Linked DNA regions of Homo sapiens: region 1 is reported to be linked to region 2. Evidence: microRNA targets listed by miRTarBase, many of them from high-throughput screens and not tested one by one. Region 2 holds a microRNA gene; the other region holds the end of a gene's coding sequence.
The links. Region 2 holds the annotated microRNA hsa-miR-3925-3p (ACUCCAGUUUUAGUUCUCUUG, at 3,686-3,706, opposite strand). A microRNA usually pairs through its seed, bases 2 to 8, with sites in the 3' UTR of a target mRNA and lowers its output. Matches are read on the target gene's strand: a 7mer-m8 pairs with bases 2 to 8, a 7mer-A1 pairs with bases 2 to 7 and ends in A, and an 8mer does both.

Region 1: the mRNA of WSB1 is a reported target of hsa-miR-3925-3p. Seed matches in the 3' UTR shown: 8mer at 3,463-3,470.

What each region holds. Positions count from the first base shown.
Region 1 is chr17:27,311,035-27,319,233 of GRCh38, forward strand. It overlaps WSB1 (WD repeat and SOCS box containing 1), which reads left to right. Exons shown (of 9, transcript NM_015626.10): 8 at 475-582; 9 at 1,176-4,892. The coding sequence ends at 1,335. Among named protein-coding and RNA genes, the nearest start is that of LINC03146, 17 kb to the right of the region's middle.
Region 2 is chr6:36,618,761-36,626,732 of GRCh38, forward strand. MIR3925 (microRNA 3925) reads right to left here and starts at 3,752; the gene lies at 3,676-3,752.

The DNA of each region.
Region 1 (8,199 bases), not on the chromosome of region 2:
GAGACAGGGTCTCCCTATGTTGCCCAGGCTGGTCTTAAAAGTCCTGGGCTCAAGCAGTCCACCCACCTCGGCCTCCCAAAGTGGTGGGATTATGGTTGTGAGCTACCAGGCCCACCTAGCTTTTAAAAATGTCTTGGGAAAAGGGTGAAACAGACTAGAAGTTGATTGTATTGTAAGTGTAGGAAAGTAAGGAGAAAGTTTCCGGGTGTGAACATTCTAGGTTTGAACACTGGGAAGGAGGGAAGGCAGCCATGCATTGTAGTCTCTTAAGTGAAAGTTTATCCAATTTACCAACTGATATTATAGACCTTAAAATATTTTGTAATTGTATAAAGCAAGTTATTATAATTGCCTGTTGGTGTGATGTGTGTATTTTGTGACTCATAACTCAATGGCATTTCTTTCTAAATTTTAAAAAAGTTGCTTTTACCTTACATTTTCTACAAGATACTAAATAATTTATTTCATTTTCAGAATGGTGAGGTTCTGGAGAATTGATGAGGATTATCCAGTGCAAGTTGCACCTTTGAGCAATGGTCTTTGCTGTGCCTTCTCTACTGATGGCAGTGTTTTAGCTGCTGGGTAAATATATTTTTCTCTTTTTTTTTTTTTTTTTTTTTTTTTTGAGATGTAGTCTCCCAGGCTGGAGTACAGTGGTGCAATCTCTGCTCACTGTAGCCTCCGTCTTCCAGTTCAAGGAGATTCTCCTGCCTCAGCCTCCCGAGTAGCTGGGACTACAGGTGCACACCACCAGTCCTGGCTAATTTATTTGTTTGTTCGTTTTTCCAGTAGGGTCGGGATTTCACCATGTTCGCCTGGCTGGTCTCAAACTCCTGACCCTGACCTCAAGTGATCTTCCCGCCTCAACTTCCCAAAGTGCTGGGATTACAGGCGTGAGCCACCACACCTGGCCCATTTTTCTCTTTTCTTTAAGGGCCAATTTAAGGGGGCTTTTAGCAGCTAGTAATTTATTGTCAGTAAAACTCTAATAAGTGTTCTTCATAGTAGTGTTACCTTGTCATGGAATACATCATTGGTTAGTTCTTCCTGGTTGGGTTTTAATGTGAAGTTTGTGACTCCACTACTCACATGTATTGGGTGATAGTTGTTTGAGCTGTAGCAACACTGAAATACATATACTTGGGTGACTAAGCATGTGCTTTGTTTCTGTTTAGGACACATGACGGAAGTGTGTATTTTTGGGCCACTCCACGGCAGGTCCCTAGCCTGCAACATTTATGTCGCATGTCAATCCGAAGAGTGATGCCCACCCAAGAAGTTCAGGAGCTGCCGATTCCTTCCAAGCTTTTGGAGTTTCTCTCGTATCGTATTTAGAAGATTCTGCCTTCCCTAGTAGTAGGGACTGACAGAATACACTTAACACAAACCTCAAGCTTTACTGACTTCAATTATCTGTTTTTAAAGACGTAGAAGATTTATTTAATTTGATATGTTCTTGTACTGCATTTTGATCAGTTGAGCTTTTAAAATATTATTTATAGACAATAGAAGTATTTCTGAACATATCAAATATAAATTTTTTTAAAGATCTAACTGTGAAAACATACATACCTGTACATATTTAGATATAAGCTGCTATATGTTGAATGGACCCTTTTGCTTTTCTGATTTTTAGTTCTGACATGTATATATTGCTTCAGTAGAGCCACAATATGTATCTTTGCTGTAAAGTGCAAGGAAATTTTAAATTCTGGGACACTGAGTTAGATGGTAAATACTGACTTACGAAAGTTGAATTGGGTGAGGCGGGCAAATCACCTGAGGTCAGCAGTTTGAGACTAGCCTGGCAAACATGATGAAACCCTGTCTCTACTAAAAATACAAAAAAAAAAAAAATTAGCCAGGCGTGGTGGTGCACACCTGTAGTCCTAGCTACTTGGGAGGCTGAGGCAGGAGAATTGCTTGAACCCAGGAGGTGGAGGTTGCAGTAAGCCAAGATCACACCACTGCACTCCAACCTGGACAACAGAGCGAGACTCCATCTCAAAAAAAAAAAAAAATTGTGTTGCCTCATACGAAATGTATTTGGTTTTGTTGGAGAGTGTCAGACTGATCTGGAAGTGAAACACAGTTTATGTACAGGGAAAAGGATTTTATTATCCTTAGGAATGTCATCCAAGACGTAGAGCTTGAATGTGACGTTATTTAAAAACAACAACAAAGAAGGCAGAGCCAGGATATAACTAGAAAAAGGATGTCTTTTTTTTTTTTTTTACTCCCCCTCTAAACACTGCTGCTGCCTTAATTTTAGAAAGCAGCTTACTAGTTTACCCTTGTGGTATAAAGTATTATAAATTGTTGTGAATTTGAAGAATCCGTCTACTGTATTATTGCTAAATATTTTGTTTATACTAAGGGACAATTATTTTAAGACCATGGATTTAAAAAAAAAAAAAAAAACTCTGTTTCTGCAGGGGATGATATTGGTGAGTTGCCAAAGAAGCAATACAGCATATCTGCTTTTGCCTTCTGTTGTTTATCTTACCTGCAGATATTAAGAATGTATGCATTATGTAAAATGCTCAATTATATATTTTTGTTGAGTTTTTTAATTAAAGACTTGTAAAAAAAAAAAACAGTATATTGCAAATGTTTCTTAAATAGGTTAGGTGGAGTACTTTCTCTCTGTCTCCATTGTAAGGTTGATGGTACACCACAGGCAAATTAAGCAAAAAGGACAATGAAGAAAGAATGCAGGACTCAGGCGCTGCTCTAGAATTCATTCAGGGCTCCCCGAGTGCAGCAGCTCTTATGGTGGTTTTGTTTTTAGGAGAACTGTTGTAATAATGCATATTTTAAAAGCATAGGGAAGCTCTAGAACACAGGAAGGTGACTACTAAGCAAGAGAAAAGTATCTTTTAGTGGGGAACTACCAGCCTATAGTAAGTCTATCTGGTTAAAGTAGTTATTATGAAAATCTAGCAGTCTGGGTCCTTTGAGAAGGCATTAAAAAAGCAAAACTCTTATGAGCCATGTGTGATTTTGAAGACTCATTTCCACTGAGAAATTATTTGGAAGTTCCTATGGTTAGCTCTGTTAAGGAATGTAAAAATTTATAGGGGGTGTAGGGTTATCAATTTGAAAGCCAGTAGAAAATCTGCTCAAGTTACTTCTTGAGGATCATCTGTATTTTACAAAAAGAAGCACAAGAAGCATCTAATCTTTATACTTCTTGTGACTTTTTTTCCCCTGCATTTTACTTTGTAATATATCGGCTTTATAATTTTAAAATACACTGGCCGGGCGCAGTGGCCCACACCTATAATCCCAGCACTTTGGGAGGCCAAGGCAGGTGGGTCACTTAAGGCCGGGAGTTCATGACAAGCCTGACCAACATAGTGAAACCCCTGTCTCTACTAAAATTACAAAAATTAGCTGGGCATGGTGGTGGGTTCCTGTACTCCTAGCTACTTAGGAGGCTGAGGCAAGAGAATTGCTTGAACTGGAGAAATGGAGGTTGCAGTGAGCTGAGATCACGCAACTGCACTCCAGCCTGGGTGACAGAGTAAGACTCTAAATAAATAAGATACCATTACTTTTCATATCATTGCATTATTTTTGCTTTCCACACCAACATATCCAGTCAAGTAAAAACAGCTTTTTTTATTTTTTATTTTTTATTTTTTTTGAGACGGAGTCTCACACTGTCACCTGGGCTGGAGTGCAGTGGTGCGATCTTGGCTCACTGCAGCCTCCACCTCCTGGGTTCAAGCAATTCTCCTGCCTCAGCCTCCCAAGCAGCTGGGATTACAGGCGCTCCCCCACCACGCCCAGCTAATTTTTGTTGTATTTTTAGGACAGACGGCGTTTCACTGTTGGCCAGACTGGTCTCAAACTCCTGACCTCGTGATCCGCCCGCCTCGGCCTCCCAGAGTGCTGGGATTATAGGTGTGAGCCACCGAACCTGGCCCAAAACAGCATTTTTGGAAGCTACATTCTGTGAGATGTTCACCTGTTTGCCACCTCTTCTCGTGAAAACCATAGTGAGTGCCAGTGTGAAAGGAAGATTGCAGCGTATATGTCAAGTAGAAACATGTTTGAATTTTCCATTTGTCTGTGGGGAAGAAGGTAATAACAGTAATAACAGACTGAAGGACCAAAGGAAAATAGGGAAGACGTTGATTATGGACTTGGATCAGATTCTAGCTACATGATTTGAAAATGACACTGCCTCTCCTATTTTGCCACAAGCCTGTCATTTGGAGAACTGGCAGATCATTTATGTTCAGATTTAATTTTCTGTTTTAGAATCCCATGGAGTACATGTGAACATAGGAAAATCACACTCAGCAGCCAAGCTATCCTTTTGCGATAATGAAATCACTTTAAAACCTATAACTTGATCTTAGGTTGGCAAATCTTAAACTTAACGATCCTTGAAATTTCCTGCCTGCTGTGACTGTGATGCAGTTGGATTCAACTGGTTTACACTGCTCTTGGGTCGGCAAGACCAAAAAAGGTTGGACTGCACTGTAGCATGCTTATGGGTTGAGGCAGTGGCAGAGGCAGAGGACTTGGCCGTCAGCCAGCCAGCACAGGCGTAAGAAAATAGCATGAGAAGTTTCACGAGCCTGAAACCATTGAGACAGTGATTACAACCTCCATATTAATCAGATGAGGGTTTGTAGGTGACATAGCATTTTACCCAAGTAATTCTGAACAGACTGTGGCTTATGATAATACATTTTAACTAGCAAGTGTGTGGACTATAAAACAAATATCTAGAGTTATATATGGATGTACTATCATTTGGTGATAAAAGCATAGAAAAAGCATAAGTTGGAGTATACTGGGTTTTTTTGTTGTTGTTAAATTCTTTTCCATCAGAAGTAAGAGCTGTTGGCAGCAACTAATAAAATGCAACCTAGTGACATGCTCGTCATAACCTTGGCAGATGTTTATGGTAAGATGCTTGGAAGGAATGAACGTAAGTAGGCAATCTCAACCTGCCCTTTGATCCATAAAGCATTCTTTAGCCACCAGCAAAAATCTGGTCTGAGCCAGGTATAAAGTGACCTGTTTTATTACAGGTGGGTGGGGTAGCTTTGTGTGGTTGTTTTTTGACATTATGTATGCTTTTATTTTTTACTTTGAGGTAGGATCTCGCTCTGTCACCCAAGCTGGAGTGCAGTGGTGCAATCTCAGCTCACTGCATACTCTGCCTCCCCTGGTTCAAGTGGTTCTCGTGCATAAGCCACCTGAGTAGCTGGGATTACAGGCGTGAGCTGGGCCAATTTTTGTATTTTTAGTAGAGATAGGGTTTCATCATGTTGGCCAGGCTCGTCTTGAACTCCTGGCCTCAAGTGATCTGCCCATCTTGGCCTCCCAAAGTGCTGGGATTACGGGCATGAGCCACAGTGCCTGACCAGTCTAGGCTTATCTTAACAGTTGAGGAATCAGAAAATGATTGAATAGGGCTGGAATTGGAGAAGGAAAAAATGATTTAATTCAATTTTTATCAACTCCAGCACTATTTTCTCTATTAGAGACTACTGTCATTATCCTTCTGGTTTCTGTTTTAAAGATACTGATTAAGGAATTTTCTTTATAGTTCCACATAACAGTTGGTCTTCTGGTCTGAAAGTAGTATTACAGGTTTTGTTAGGAAAACCTATAATACAGTGTTGCCTGTCACCGTCATTATAGTGAGTTTGTGTTTGTTTGGTTTTAAATAAGGCTGAAGCATCAATGGCTCTTTCTGAAAAAATTGTTCTCCAAAAGTAAAGTGTGAGCTATAGAAATCATCTAGAACAGGGGTGTCCAATCTTTTGGCTTCCTTGGGCTACATTGGAAGAATTGTCTTGGGCCACACATAAAATACACTAACTGATGAGCTTAAAAAAGAATTACAAAAACAATCTCATAATGTTATTAAGAAGGTTTACGAATTTGTGTTGGGCCACGTTCAAAGCCATCCTGGGCCACATGTGGCCCGTGGGCTACACGTTGGACAAACTTGCTCGAGTATAGATCAGTAAGTAAGAGAAATGAAATGGCTACTCCACTGGGTCGTTTTATGCTTCCGAATTGTTGAATAATAATGAAATGTTCTTATAAAAAATAGATTAAGGATGATGGGCATTAGAGAGATACCTGAGAAAGATAATGATTAAAATAGATCCAAGAGGCCAGGTGCAGTGGCCCTCGCCTGTAATCCCAGCACTTTGGGAGGCCAAGGCAGGCAGATCACCTGAGGTCAGGAGTTCGAGACCAGCCGGCTAACATGGTGAAACCCCGTTTCTACTAAAAATACAAAAAATTAACCCAGCATGGTGGCATGCGTCTGTAATCCCAGCTACTCAGGAGGCTGAGGCAGGACAATCGCCTGAACCCGGGAGGCGGAGGTTGCGGTGAGCCAAGATTGCACCATTGTACTCCAGCCTGGGCAACAAGAGTGAAACTCCATCTCAAAAAAAAAAAGCCAAGAATGAGGCTGATATTAAACAGAAATATATATATATATGTATATATATATATTTTTTGACACGGAGACTCGCTCTGTTGCCCAGACTGGAATGCAGTGGTGCAGGCTCAGCGCACCACAACCTCCGCCTCCCGGGTTCAAGAGATTCTCCTGTCTCAGCCTCCTGAGTAGCAGGGATTACAGGCCGTGCCACCACACCTGGGTTATTTATTTATTTATTTTGAGACGGAGTCTCTCCCTGTCACCAGGCTGGAGTGCAGTGGCACATTCTCGGCTCACTGCAACCTCTGCCTCCTGGGTTCAAGCGATTCTCCTGCCTCAGCCTCCCAAGTAGCTGGGACTACAGGTGCCTGCCACCATGCCCAGCTAATTTTTGTATTTTTAGCAGAGGTGGGGTTTCACCATGGTGGCCAGGATGGTCTCGATCTCTTGACCTCGTGATCTGCCTGCGTCGGCCTCCCAAAGTGCTGGGATTACAGGCGTGAGCCACCACGCCCGGCTGTATTTTTTTTTTTTTTAGTAGAGACAGGGTTCTGCCATGTTGGCCAGGCTGGTCTGGAATTCCTGACCTCAGGTGATCCACCCACCTCAGCCTCCCAAAGTGCTGGGATTACAGGCATGAGCCATCACGCCCTGCCTTAAATGGAAATCTTAAAAGACATACATTTGCACCAAGTGAGCTAAATATTTTGGCACCAAACTCACACAAAATGGCCGGGCACAGGGGCTCACACCTGTAATCCCAGCACTTTGGGAGACTCTGGTGGGCAGATCACTTGAGGTCAGGAGCTGGAGACCAGCCTGGCCAACATGGTGAAACCCCATCTCTACTAAAAATACTCCCCAAAAATTACCTGGGCGTGGTGGCTCATGCCTGTAAGTCCCAGCTACTCAGGAGGCTGAGGCAGGAGAATAGCTTGAACCTGGGAGGCAAAGTTGGCATTGATCCAAGATGGCGCCACTGCACTCCAGCCTGCATGACAGAACCAGACTCTGTGTCAAAAACAAACTCACACAAAATGGGAAACCCAGTAAGTTGTATGATTCACAATATTAATCTCACAGTAATGGCTGAGGAAAAGCACAGTTAATATTATGGACCGAATGTTGTATGCACACCCCACGACCACCACCACCACCACCAGTAATACGTTGAAATCCTAATCCTCAATGTAATGATATTAGGGAGTGGGGCCTTTGGGAGGTGATTAGGTCATGAGGGCGGAGTCCTCATAATGGGATTCGTGCCCGTGTGAAAGGAACCCTAGAAAGCTCTCATTCCCTCTCCACCATGTGAAGATACAATGAGAAGACAACAGTCTAACCGAGAAGAGGACCTGCACCCTGATCTCAAACTTCCAACATCCAGAACTGTGAGAAGTTAACTTCTGTTGTTTATAACCCATCTAGTCTATGGTACTTTCTTCTAGCAGCCCAAATGGACTAAGGCATAGGAACAGCAGGAATGCCTCCTTGAAACTTCTTTATTTTTTCAAGATGGTCTCGCCCTGTGACCCAGGTTGGGGTGCAGTGGCATGATCACGGCTCACTGCAGCCTCCATCTCCTGAGCTCAATCGATTCTCCTGTCTCAGCCTCCTGAGTAGCTGGGACTATAGTTATGCACCATCACACCCAGCTAATTTTTGTATTTTTTATAGAGACAAGGTCTTGCTGCCTAGGCTGGTCTCCATCTCCCAGACTGTAGCAGTCCTCCCGCCTTGGCCTCCCAAAGTGCTGGGATTACAGGTGTTAG
Region 2 (7,972 bases):
TGAAGCATCAGCAACTGTGCCTGGCACAGAGGAGGCCCTGAAAGTTGCCAAGCTCAGCGTTTTCCTTCACATCAGCTCTGCTCCACCCCCTTTAATTACTCACTTTTATAATAATTCAAAGGTAACCCATGACCATGGTAGAAAAATTAGCACATATAAGCAAAAAAAGGGAAAAAAGTGATTCAATAGCTTCTGGTTTTTCTAGCCTTTTTCTTTATTCTGGGTGCTTGGTATGGGAAGTTTCTTCATTTGTGTTTAGAGGGTTTTGTAGAGATGATATCATGGTCCCACTTTGCAAACGAGACAATTGAATTCCAGAAAGAGGAAGTGCCTTCCCCAAGGTCATGCAGATAAGGTTAAGCTGGGTTGAAACCCACAGCTTGAGTCCAAGCCCAGCACCAGAATATCAGGACCACAGAGGCATTGCACACAGGTGGGTCACAGATACCTGTCCCTGAAAAGCTCATGATACGGTATTTTCCTTGAAGGACTTAAACATTCCCCACTGAAAACATCCTGCTTTGTGACTTGCCCCATCCTGAAGTCCTGGGAGTGGACAGTTTGTGAATAAACCACCTGACTAGGTGAGGGCTGTCGGCTCCTGAGTTTTGCTCCCCCAGAGACACTGAGTATGCACCATCCGTGGGCTTGCCAGCATGAAAGTGCTATCATTGTGGGCTTTCCCTTCACATTTTTTTTTTTTTTTTTGAGACAAGGTCTTGCTCTGTCACCCAGGCTGGAGTGCAGTGGTGCGATCTTGGCTCACTGCAACCTCTGCCTCCTGAGTTCAAGTGATTCTCCTGCCTCAGCTTCCCAATAAGCTGAGATTACAGGTGCGTGCCACCATGCTCGGCTAATTTTTGTATTTTTATTAGAGACAGGGTTTGGCTATGTTGCTAAAGGCTGGTCTCGAACTCCTAGCCTCAAGTGATCTGCCCGCCTTGGCCTCCCAAAGTGCTGGGATTATAGGCATGAGCCCGGCCTCCCCTCACTTTAAAGGATGCTCCTTACCTGTTTTTGCTTTCTTCTGGTCTTTCCTGTGGCAACTGTTGTGGGGTTCCCAGCAAATATTTCAGTTTTTTCCTAAAAGAAGTAAGCGTGCACATTTCACTGGCTAAAGTACACTCTTGTGTTAAAATTCTGCATTGAAAATGGGTGAAGTCACCCTGGCAACATGGCAAAACTGCATTTTTACAAAAAATACAAAAATTAAGGCCAGGTGTGGTGGCTCACGTCTGTAATCCCAGCACTTTGGGAGGCCGAGGCAGGCAGATCACTTGAGGCCAGACATTCGAGACCAGCCTGGCCAACATGGCGAAACCCTGTCTCTGCTAAAAATACAAAAATTAGCCAGGCATGGCTGGGTGCGGTGGCTCATGCCTGTAATCCCAGCACTTTGGGAGGCTGAGGAGGACAGATCATGAGGTCAGGAGTTCAAGACCAGCCTGACCAATATGGTGAAACCCCGTCTCTACTAAAAATACAAAAATTAGCTGGGTGTGGTGGCACGCACCTGTCGTCCCAGCTACTTGGGAGGCTGAGGCAGGAGAATCGCTTGAACCCGGGAGGCAGAGGTTGCAGTGAGCCGAGATCACGCCAATGCGCTCCAGCCTGGGTGACAGAGCAAGACTCCATCTCAAAAAAAAAACCAAAAAAACAAAAAAGCTGCGTGGTGGTGCACGCTTGTAATCCCAGCCGCTTGGAAGGCTGAGGCACAAGAATCACTTGAGCCTGGAAGGTCAAGGCTGCAGTGAGCTGTGATGGCGCCACTGCACTCCAGCCTGAGTGAAGGGCAAGACCCTGTCTCAAACAAACAAACAAAAATCAAAGGATGAAGTCACGTAGATTTTGGGCAAATTGTTTTCCAAAATCTGTTAGCATAATTCTACAGAATGTCAAAAAGATAAAGACATCCACCAGTAAACCCTAATTGTTTGATGGTTGTAAGTAGTCACTTGAGATGTGACCGCAATAGGGGCCTGCCCATGGGGAAGGTGGCATACCCACCCATCTCCTGTGCCAACATGGCGTCCCTATCTCCTGGTAGCCCTGAGGCGAGGGTCAGGTGAAGGAAGTTGGGATCATCATTTACTCAGTTTGCCTATCTGTAGAAAGGGGGTATTTGGGCTGAAGGTGGCCTGTAACTCACAGGATGATCTGTCCCCTCTTCACACTGCACCCTGCAGTGAGGGGAGCAATGACTGAGTCAACCACTGCTTTAGGCAGCGGGGGTCCTTGATAAGGAGATAAGTTTGCCACACTGGGACTGATGGTCCTCAAGTTCTTTTCCAGCACCGATATTCTAAGATTCGGTGACTCCAGAAAAGCAATAAGGCCGTTGTGAGGAGGGCAGATCCAGAGGATGATCTTCCTGGAGGGGAGGGGAAAATGTTCAGTGCATACAGTGGGTAATGGTTCATCTGAGGTGGCATCAGACTGTACAACAAGCAGGGATTGTTCTGCAGGGTTCAGGCGACTGTTAGTATTTGATCAAGATTGGAATAGTCTCCTAAAACCTACTTGATCCTCACAGAAAAGTTCCTATCCCCATTGTGCAGATGTGGAAACTGAAGGTTAGAGATAGAAAGTTAGACCCTAGGGTGAGGCAATGGATGGCTAGGACTAGAACCCAAGGCAGGCTCCTAGGGCTCCTGCTTTTCCAGCACGCATCTACCATGCATATGTGCTACTACCAGGCCTGGCGCTAGGATTCACATCACTTTAGAGGCTGCTTGGTGAACATGGGCACCCACAAAAGCCCTGGAGAAGGCAGGTTCTTTCTCAGGAATGGCCAGTGGGTGTGAAGATCACAGTGTGGGAGAAAGATCAAGGAGGACTGAGGGCCACCCGACCAGGAATCATCTCCAGCAGCCTGTGGGTGACCGCTCGTCATCCAGATCAGCATCAGGAAGGTTCTGCACAACACCTCTAGGGAACACATGGGGATCGAGGTCCTGTGGCCGTCTTGGGGTCTGAAGATCTAGATTTAGCTTCTGGCAGTATCATGATGCAAACCTGGGCAAGTTGTTTTGTTCCCTGGACCTTGGTCTCTTCATCAGTGAAATGGAACTAATTATATTACCTCATAGGGCTATTATAAGGCCTAATAAAAAAAAAAAAGAAAGCATCCATAAACAATGTTTACTGAGCACTAGTAGTGCCAGGCACTCTTCACTTGTATTAACCCATTTGATCTTCACAAAAAATATTTTCTTTTTTGTTTGAGACGGAGTCTCCCTCTGTCGCCCAGGCTGGAGTGCAGTGGCGTGATTTTGGCTCACTGCAGCCTCCACCTCCCAGGTTCAAGTGATTCTCCTGCCTCCGCCTCCCGAGTAGCTGGGATTACAGGCGCCCGCCACCACACCCGGCTAATTTTTTGTATTTTTAGTAGAGACAGGGTCTCACCATGTTAGCTAGGATGGTCTCGATCTCCTGATTTCATGATCTGCCTGCCTCGGCCTCCCAAAGTGCTGGGATTACAGGCGTGAGCCACCGCACCTAGCCCACAACAAATTTTAGAGAGTAGGTACTATTGCTGTCCCCATTTTAGGAAACACAGAAGTTGGTTCCAGCCACAAGGAAGTGGCTTCATCCATCATCAAGAAGTTGATTCCAGCCCACGTGGATGGCTTTGAGGAGTTCAAGACTTTAGTGGAGGAAGTGATGAAAGATGTGGTGGAAATAGCAAGAGAACTAAAACTGGAGTCTGGAGATGTGACAGGCTCCACTTTCAGTTCTCTTGCTATTCCCACATGACCATGGTCCAGGATCCTGAGTTTATGTTCAGGAAATAAGACTCAGCGAAAACTTGCAGTCACTTTCATAATCATTAATGCAGAGATTCTCAATAAATTCTTAAGGCTCCACCACGCTCCAACATAAAGTAACACATTCAGTTTGTTACAGAAATGGTAATAAGGCAACACTATGCAATACTATGTGTACAATGCAGCACTTTGCAGTACCAAAATCCATGCCTACAAAGCACTGCACAAGAACACATACAAATAAAGGATATAGTAGAATGGCTGCCTGTGGGGTGGGGGCATGGAAATGACAATGGAGTGAGGGGGGAATACATGAAGCAAGAGGTGACTAGTCAGGACCAATGATGACAGCCAGCCATCACCTGGGGAATAGGAGGGACTCATCCCACTGCACCTGAGGACTAAAAATAAAATGGAATGGAAACAAGACCCTGGGTGAAATCACTCGGCCTGAAATACACTGGCCCTGGGCTCAAAGAGGAAAGGTGGGGACACATCCTGGGCTGCCTCATCAAACCAGGAGCCTGCAAGAGCATCCCTGTGTGTGTGTGGAGGGGGTGAGGACAAAGGGAGGGTCAACCACACCCAGTTCTGTGAGCTCAAACACCAGACTAAAGGCCACAGGCAGACCCTCCAAGGCCTCAGGGAAGGAGTGAAGAGAAAGGCCTGGGTGGTCAGTGTCAGAGGCGGCACAGTCACATGCTGTCATGCCTATTTCACCAAGGTTTAGCCAAATGCACTATTAGGGTGTCAAGAAAATATGGATATAGGGCAACAATCCTGTGATTGTATGATGACTGTAGGCTTGATCATCATAAGGGTCCTGCCATATGCTGGTCCAGTTGGCACACCCACCCATCTCCTGTGCCAGTGGAGTGTGCCTGTGAAACAGCAGTCAGCTCTTCTGGTGGCCCTGAGGATCGGGGTGAAGGAAGAGTGGATCTTCATTTAGTTAGTTTGCCCCTCTGCAGGAGGAGGGGAGTTGGATACAGACCTCTCCTAACAACCCGCCTGGCTACTGGAACCTTCCTGAGAAATGTGGTTAACCTCTGGGCGCAGAGCCAGCAGTTCTAGGCTCCCGTCACAAGGGGGCAGGATGGGGAAGAAAACAGGTTCTCAATTCCAGGCCTTGGACCTGTCAGGTTTGCTGGCAGGGGCAGGAAGGAGGGTGGGGTCGGGAGTGTGTGGTGGTTGATGAGGGATCCAACCATCGTTCCGCAAGAGCGGCTTGTTTATTAAACATGAAATGAGGGAAAAGCCTAGTAGCTCCATTGGATTGGGAAGAATGGCAAAGAGAGACAGGCGTCATTTTCTAGAAAGCAATCTTCACACCTGTTGGTCCTCACCCATTGAATGTCCTCACCCAATCTCCAACACAGAAATGAGTGACTGTGTGTGCACATGCGTGTGCATGTGTGAAAGTATGAGTGTGAATGTGTCTATATGGGAACATATATGTGATTGTATGTGTGTAACTATGTGTGACTGGCAGCGTGGGGAGTGCTGGTTGGAGTGTGGTGTGATGTGAGTATGCATGAGTGGCTGTGTGTATGACTGTGGCGGGAGGCGGAAGGGGAGAAGCAGCAGGCTCAGGTGTCGCCAGAGAGGCTGGGAGGAAACTATAAACCTGGGCAATTTCCTCCTCATCAGCGAGCCTTTCTTGGGCAATAGGGGCAGAGCTCAAAGTTCACAGAGATAGTGCCTGGGAGGCATGAGGCAAGGCGGAAGTACTGCGAGGAGGGGCAGAGGGTCTGACACTTGAGGGGTTCTAATGGGAAAGGAAAGACCCACACTGAATTCCACTTAGCCCCAGACCCTGGGCCCAGCGGTGCCGGCTTCCAACCATACCAACCATTTCCAAGTGTTGCCGGCAGAAGTTAACCTCTCTTAGCCTCAGTTTCCCCACCTGTAAAATGGCAGAAGTAACCAAGCTTACCTTCCCGGCAGTGTGTGAGGATGAAAAGAGCTATGTACGTGATGCACTTAGAAGAAGGTCTAGGGTGTGAGTGGTACTCGTCTGGTGGGTGTGGAGAAGACATTCTAGGCAATGAGGACTGGGGAGAGCCTGGCCCATGGCTTCCACTCAGCAAGGTCAGTCTCTTGTCCTCTGCACTCCCAGCCTTCCAGAGAGGACCTTCCCAACCAGCACTCCCCACGCTGCCAGTCACACATAGTTACACACATACAATCACATATATGTTCCCATATAGACACATTCACACTCATACCTTCACACATGCACACGCATGTGCACACACAGTCACTCATTTCTGTGTTGGAGATTGGGTGAGGACATTCAATGGGTGAGGACCAACAGGTGTGAAGATTGCTTTCTAGAAAATGACTCCTGTCTCTCTTTGCCATTCTTCCCAATCCGATGGAGCTACTAGGCTTTTCCCTCATTTCATGTTTAATAAACCTTCCCAATGGCGAAATGGGCTTTCTCAAGAAGTGGTGAGTGTCCCATCCCTGCGGTGGGGACAGGGGTGGCAGCGGACAAGCCTGCCTGGAGGGAACTGTCAGGCTGATTCCCAGTCCAACTCCAGCTTCCAACACCTCATCCTCCAGGCAGTCTTCATTCTTGGCTCTAATTTCGCTCTTGTTTTCTTTTTTATTTTTATCGAGAACTGGGTGGAGAGCTTTTGGTGTCATTGGGGATTGCTTTGAAACCCTTCTCTGCCTCACACTGGGAGCTGGCTTGAGTCAACTGGTCTCCATGGAATTTCTTTTTTTAGTGTGTAAACAGCTAAGTTTTAGGCAGCTGTTGTGCCGTCCAGGGTGGAAAGCAGCCTGTTGATGTGGAACTGCTTGGCTCAGATTTCTTGGGCAAACAGATGCCGTGTCTCTCAACTCACCAATTAAGAAGCCCAGAAAATGTGGCTTGGAGACCACATGTCTGGTTATGTCTAGTAATTCAGATGGCTTCACCTGGGAAGCCCTTTCTGAATGTCAAAGCCATGAGATAAAGGACATATATATAGTAGCTAGGGTGGTCCACTTCTTAGGGGCCATCTCCGGAGGTGGTGAGCACTAAGTGCCAGGAAGAGAGGAAACTCTGTTTTGGAGCCAAAGCATAAAAAAACCTTAGCCACAAACCACTGAACATTTGTTTTGTGCAGGTTCTGAGTCCAGGGAGGGCTTCTGAGGAGAGGGGCAGCTGGAGCTGGTAGGAGTTATGTGAGATGGAGCAAGGGCCCTTTAAGAGGTGGGAGCAGCATGAGCAAAGGCAGAGAGGTGGTAATGTATAAGGTATGTCATGGGAAAGAGTTTGGCTGGAACAGAGTTTACAGAATAGAAAAATTCAACACTATTAATTGAGCCTCTACTACGTGCTCGACATTGTTCTAGTCACTGAGATAGGTTTGGTATACAAAACAAAATCCATCCTCTATGGACATTTTAGTGACTAACAACAATATAAATAATAAAAGTGAACAAAAGCTCAAAACATGCCAGGCACTATTATTTATTTATTTATTTATTTATTTATTTATTTTTTGAAACAGAGTCTCGCTCTGTTGCCCAGGCTGGAGTGTAGTGGTGCGATCTCGGCTCACTGCAAGCTCCGCCTCCCGGGTTCACACCATTCTCCTGCCTCAGCTTCCCGAGCAGCTGGGATTACAGGTGTGCACCACCGTGCCTGGCTAATTTTTTTTGTATTTTTAGTAGAGACAGGGTTTCGCCATGTTAGCCAGGATGGTCTCGATCTCCTGACCTCGTGATCCACCTGCCTCGGCCTCCCAAAGTGCTGGGATTACCGGCGTGAGCCACCGCCCCCGGCTCCAGGCACTATTTTGAGTATATATTTATTCATTTAATCCTCAAAGCACCCGCATGAAGTAGTAGCATTGTTATTCCCATTTCATGGATGAGGAAGTAAAGGCATTGAATGGTGGAGGCAGAATTCAAACCCAGAGCCCATGTGGTGACCATGATGCTCCCCTACTCCACGAGAATAAGAAAGTAGCCAAAAGTCCAGTCAACCAGGGAACAAGGGCACGTCTGGAGAGTGGTGAATACTGGGCAGGGGGAGTGGGGAGCTGGTGGTTTTGGAAGATTAATCTGGAAATGTGTGGAGTTGATGGGAGGACAGGTAGCTGGAGGGATATGGGGCCTCACTCGGGAGGAGAAAAAGAGTGAAGACAGAGAAGAATCAGTATAGGGCTTGGAACATTTCTCAGGTCATATCTTAACAGGAATTAGTG